2 separate regions of the Homo sapiens genome follow, and region 1 is linked to region 2. The links come from fine-mapping of genetic effects on gene expression. A gene starts in region 2. The other region holds a variant in brackets. All regions are shown on one strand. Distances are from middle to middle.

Region 1 (2,906 bases), 98 kb before region 2:
CAGGCACTGGTATACCTGAGATCAATCTCATTGTATTAGTCAGTCAGGAGCTCTGTCTGGATCACTCACTGTTGGGTGCTCAGCATGGGCATTCAGACTTTTTGTTTGTTTTGGTTTGTTTTGTTTTGAGATGGAGTCTTGCTCTGTCGCCCAGGCTGGAGTGCAGTGGAATGATCTTGGCTCACTGCAACCCCCGCCTCCCAGGTTCAAGTGATTCTCCTGCCTCAGCCTCTCAAGTAGCTGGGATTATAGGCGCACACTACCACGCCTGGCTAATTTTTTGTATTTTTAGTAGAGACGGGGTTTCACCATGCTGGCCAGGCTGGTCTTGAACTTCTGACCTCAAATGATCCACACGCCTCGGCCTCCCAAGGTGCTGGGATTACAGGCGTGAGCCACCGCACCCAGTGGCATTCACTCTCCTGAGAGAAGTCCGGGAGTTCCGAGTGAGTTCTGAGTGAGCTCAGGCATTGGCTCACTCAAGAGGGCTCAGCTGGCATCAGATGTGATTGCATGTAACAAAGAGACACCAAATAATGATGGCTTAAACAAGATAGAAACCTCTATTTTTCTTTTTTTGACACAGAGTTTCACTCTGTTTTGATCATTGCTCACTGCAGCCTAGACCTCCCGGGCTCAAGCAATCCTCCCACCTCAGCCTCCAGAGTAGCTGGGACTACAAGCATGTGCCATGCCGGTAAATTAGTCATATCTGCTTATTTTTTTAATTTTTTTTTTTTTGGTAGAGACAGGGTCTCCCTGTTGCCCAGGCTGGTCTCAAACTCCTGGGCTCAAGTGATCCTCCCACCTTGGCCTCCCAAAGTGCTGGGATTACAGGTGTGAGCCATCGAATCCGGCTCAAACCTTTTATTTCTCTTATGTAAAAGCAGTCCTGACCGGGCACGGTGGCTCACACCCTGTAATCCCAGCACTTTGGGAGGCCAAGGCAGGGTGCATCACAAGGTCAAGAGATCGAGACCATCCTGGCCAATATGGTGAAACCCTGTCTCTACTAAAAATACAAAAATTTGCCGGGTGAGGTGGCACGTGCCTGTAATCTCAGCTACTTAGTAGGCTGAGGCAGGAGAACCACTTGAATCCGGGAGGTGGAGGTTGCAGTGAGCCCGGATTATGCCACTGCACTCCAGCCTGGCAACAGAGTGAGACTCTGTCTCAAAAAAAAAAAAAAAAAAAAAAAAAGCAGTCCTAAGAAACTGCTCCTTTCTTCCATTAAATTTTTTTTTTTCAGATAGGGTCTCACTCTGTTGCCCAGGCTGGAGTGCAGTGGCAAGATCACGACTCACTGCAGCCTCGAACTCCCTGACTCAAGCACTCCTCCCACCTCAGCCTCCCAAGTGTAGCTGGGACTATAGGAGTGCACACCATACCCAGCTAATTTTTTGATTTTCTATAGACAGGGTCCCACCATGTTGCCCAGGCTGGTTTTGAACTCTTGGGCTCAAGCAATTATCCAGGATTCTTTGAGCCAAATTTGCCAAAGTATCCCTGCTGCACTCAGTTATTGGTAGTTTTTGGCACTCAGCT[G/A]ATGGCAAGCAATGTCTGCGCAAATACAAGGGTGGATTTCAGAACAGCAGCTGGGGCCCTTGATTAAATTCATCCCCTGTAGCTTACGGTCTGTGAGATGAAGTCTCATGGCTACCATAGGTGCATACCGGTGGTTCCCTCTGGGGATTCCCTCTAGGGCTCATTTTGGGCTTTTTTTTTTTTGAGATGGAGTCTCGCTCTGTCACCCAGGCTGGAGTGCAGTGGCACAATCTCGGCTCACTGCAACCTCTGCCTCCCAGGTTCAAGTGATTCTCCTGCCTCAGCCTCCCGGGTAGCTGGGACTACAGGCAAGTGCCACCACGTTCAGCTAATTTTTTCACTTTTTTTTTTTTTTTTAAGACAGAGTCTCGCTGTGTCGCCCAGGCTGGAGTGCAGTGGCGCGACCTCAACTCACTGCAACCTCTGACTCCCGGGTTCAAGCAATTCTCCTGCCTCAGCCTCCCAAGTAGCTGGGACTACAGGTGCCCACCACCATGCCTGGCTAAATTTTGTATTTTTAGTAGAGATGGGGTTTCACCATGTTGGCCAGGCTGGTCTCGAACTCCTGACCTCAAGTGATCTGCCCGCCTCAGCCTCGCAAAGTGCTCCAATTACAGGCGTGAGCCACCATGCCCGGCCTTGGGCATGTTATTTCCAGGTTCAGATATTAGGTTTTCAGTCTGAGGGAAGCTGTTTCAGAACATGGGCTCAGTCTACACTTTCAGCAGGGGGGATGAGTTTGTGGCTTTAGTATGTGATGGGTCCTTCTGGGAACTCACCCTGGGCCCATTTGCAGGATATCAGTCCCAGTCCCCATACTCCTTCAAGGAGCTAAGTTTGGGGACTCAGTCCCGTGGCTCTACCTAGAGGCTCATTATGGGCATTATGGGGACATGACTTTAAGGTTAAGGGTTTACATGTTGATGGTTCACTCTTTTTTTTTTTTGAGACAGGGATCTGGCTCTGTCACCCATGCTGGAGTGCACTGCTGCCATCTCTGCTCATTGCAACCCCCGCCTCCTGGGCCCAAGCTGATCCTCCAACCTCAGCCTCCAGGGTAGCTTGGAGACCGCAGGCATGTCCCACCAAGTCCTGCTAATTTTTGTATTTTTTTCAGAGACAGGGTTTTGCCATGTTGCCCAGGCTGGTCTCAAACTCCTGGACTCAAGGAATCTGCCCAGATGGTTCACTCTTGAGACACTAATTCTAGTGTTTCAGTTGGGAGAGGATTTGATATGGGAGCCTGATATTTTCTCTGACATATGACTAAGCCTCTCACCGAGTGAGTGCCAGTTTCAGAGCTCAGTCTGCTCAGGTATTGGAAGCCCAGTCTGGAGATTTTAGCCTGAGGTCAAGCCTAG
Region 2 (2,906 bases):
TGGAATAAATAGAGATCCAGTTTTATATTTCTTTTCATGGAGAGCCAAATTTCCCAATGCCATCTACTAAACAGCCCATTTCCCATTTTTTGTGGTGCAGGCCTGTAAACTCACCCATTTAACAAACAGTTGTTGAAGCCTGCCTCATACCAGTCTTGTGCTGGGTGTTGTTGAAAGCTTGAAGATACATGGCCCCTGCTCTCAGGGAGTTCACCCTCCTGTGGAGACACAGTCACATAAACAACTACAGTATTGTGATAAGTGCTAGCTTAGCTGTATAGGTAAGGTGCTCTGGGTTTCTAACTCATCTGCGAAAGTCAGAGAAGGTTTCATCGAAGTGACAAGAGTTAGGTCTTAGAGAAACAGAGCAAAATTGCAAATGCAGGGGGAAAGGTGAAAGTGGTCAGGGCTGGTTTCAGGTCCAGAGGAATTTCATGTGTCTCTAGGATGAGAGGTTAGAAGCCCTCCAACGATGTAGAGAGGTAGTGAGTCCTGTTTATGTAAGGGATAAAGGGACAGATGGAGTCATTTTCAGCCCGTCTGTGCTTGAAGTGGAGAAACAAACCCACCCTCGGAGGCACAGAGTTCCACCTACTCTGTGCCCCACCCCAGGGTTTAGGCTTGAGGAAGAGGAGGGGCTGGAATTAAACCATCAAGAAGAAAACATTTGCAGACTAATATTTACTATTTTGTGGGGGAGACCTCACTTCCCAGCCAGCTCCTTGAGATGGCTTCAGAAACCCCTACTTGCCCCACTCCAGAGATATAAATTCATTCCCTTCTGCAGACGCTGCTCCGGGATTGAGGGAAGGATGGAGTAGGAGGGGAAGAAGGCAAAAGGGTGGGAGAGGCTTCTAGTGTGGGAGAGGCTTCTAGTCGTTCTGGCTCCTGCTCCAGCTCGGGTTGGGTATGGCCATAGATCTGAACGTATGCAGAAAAAGCTAGGAGTGCTCAGGGATGGTCTGGGGCTCAAGGACCCGGGAAGGTGGTTGGGAATAGCTAACCAATTCACTTCAGGTGGGGAAATACTCGGCCAGACACGTGACCCAGGCGGCCATTTTCTCACACCCTGCTGTCGCCATCTTCCAGGCAGACAAAGACACCATCCCCCACCCTTGTCTGATTCGGGCGTGGTGACTGCCTGGTTATTGAGATTTGGGAGCACGCATATTTAACCCCAGACAGATGCCCGCAGACAAAATTTTGGCTTGCAAGTAAGGTATATGGCCGCACCAGTCGACCCGCCGCTTCTTCCCGGTCATTTCCCCGTCCTCCTTCTCCCTCCTCCGCTATTTCCTTAACTACGGGGCAGGCAGGAGGCGGGGCCAGCGTGGTCGCGAAGAAGGGACGGGCGGGCGTGAGCTGTCAGTCAGAAGCTCCGCCCCCCCCCCCCCCCCCCCGCGGAGACCGCACGGTGGGCGGAGTCGGGCGCCGCCGGCCTGGGATCCGGAAGTCGGAGCCTAGCTGCGCGAGAGTTTCTGCTCGCTCAACCGAGTTGTCGTGTTGCCCTCGCTTCTCAGATCCCCGCCGGAAGTGTAAGTAAGAAACTTCTCTCCTCTTTTCTCACAATGTGCGCTCACCTAGACGGCCGGGCAGTTAGGATCGTCTATTGGATGTGAAACCAGAGATGCCCGCCAACCTGGAATAGAGAGGTAAACAGCAGGATCCCTTCCAGGGTAGAAGGGACCGGAAGAGGGGCAGGGATCGCGGCACACGTGGAGACGCGCCGAATTGCCTTTTCGCGGAGTGGAGTTTGCCGGGAGAGGGGCATTGCCCCATCCCACCTAGAAAGGTGTAGACCCGGGACACACTGTGTAGAGAGGCACAAACTTCACTTGTGTGGTGAAGCGTTGATCGTCCTCAAGATAGTGAGGCTTCATTCTGCATTCACCTTGTATAGACAGGAGTCGACCCACCAAAGGCATGGGGGACATCCACCCCAACCGTGTAGAGACATCTCCCTCCACCCAGCTGAGCAGCGCAGACTTCTCCCGACTTAAGGCACTTCCTTGGCTTGGCTCTAGACAGCCGTCTCGAGGCACCTCCTCAGGACAGACAGAGGCTTTGATGTATCTGCCCCCATACCAGCATAGAGGAGCTTAGAAACATTTAATATACAGAGGGAGGGCACCTCCTCCCCATACGCGTAGACTCAGAGCCCTCAGTATCGCTCCCCAACTCACCCGTCCCCAAAGTGGTTGCAGTTACAGGCCTCAGCTTATGGACAACTAAGCCAATTGCCCCCTCCTCTTAGGTTAGAGTGAGTCCCCATTGTGGAGAATCAGACCTGATCCCTACTTCCGTAGCCCCCGTTTTACCGAATGTGTAATTTTTCGAAGCACCCAACATGCTTCGAAGCAAACAGGAACAGACCTTAATCCATGAAGAGACAGTCAGGTCTGCCCCTTGAGGGGCCGTGGGGGTAGAGGGGCTCAGATGTGTTCCTCTCCCTTTGAGGTAGACACAGATCATCCCCCTACCTCCCCCTACCTCCCCCAAAGATTTAGAATCACTAAATGTAGCAAGGGAGATACCCCACAGGAGCAGATATGCAGGTCTCCCTCCCTGTAATGTTGAGAGGGAGTGACATCGCTGATTACCTGGCAGTTCAGTGCGTATGGTCTCTCCCCTTTACCCAAGGTAGTGGAGCTCAGATCTGTTTCTCTCCACCCAGGGTAGAATCACAGACGCCCCCACCCCCAAGTATTAGGGCTGATCTATTAATTTATAGCTGCATTGCCAGCCCCCTCCACACACCACCCATGCAGAGAACCAGAGCCCCTATTTCTTTCAGTGTTAGTGTGCCGCTGACTTCAACCAGCATAAAAGATGAAAGTTGTCACAGTCCACCTTCCATAGAAGGGTCCAGAATAGCTCACTGCAGGTAAGGTGCAGACCCGCTTATT

What was found. PIP is the estimated chance that this variant, and not a neighbour inherited with it, causes the effect.
Region 1: its variant is the best candidate, but not a certain one, in a credible set for the expression of GNL3L in whole blood (TOPMed, PIP 0.81).

The regions. Positions count from the first base shown.
Region 1 is chrX:54,430,850-54,433,755 of GRCh38, forward strand. No RefSeq gene overlaps it. Among named protein-coding and RNA genes, the nearest start is that of TSR2, 8.1 kb to the right of the region's middle. The variant G/A (reference allele first, on the strand shown) is at 1,546.
Region 2 is chrX:54,528,768-54,531,673 of GRCh38, forward strand. GNL3L (G protein nucleolar 3 like) reads left to right here and starts at 1,452. Exons shown (of 16, transcript NM_001184819.2): 1 at 1,452-1,652. RefSeq lists enhancers at 853-1,373, 1,028-1,077, 1,528-1,587, 1,598-1,857.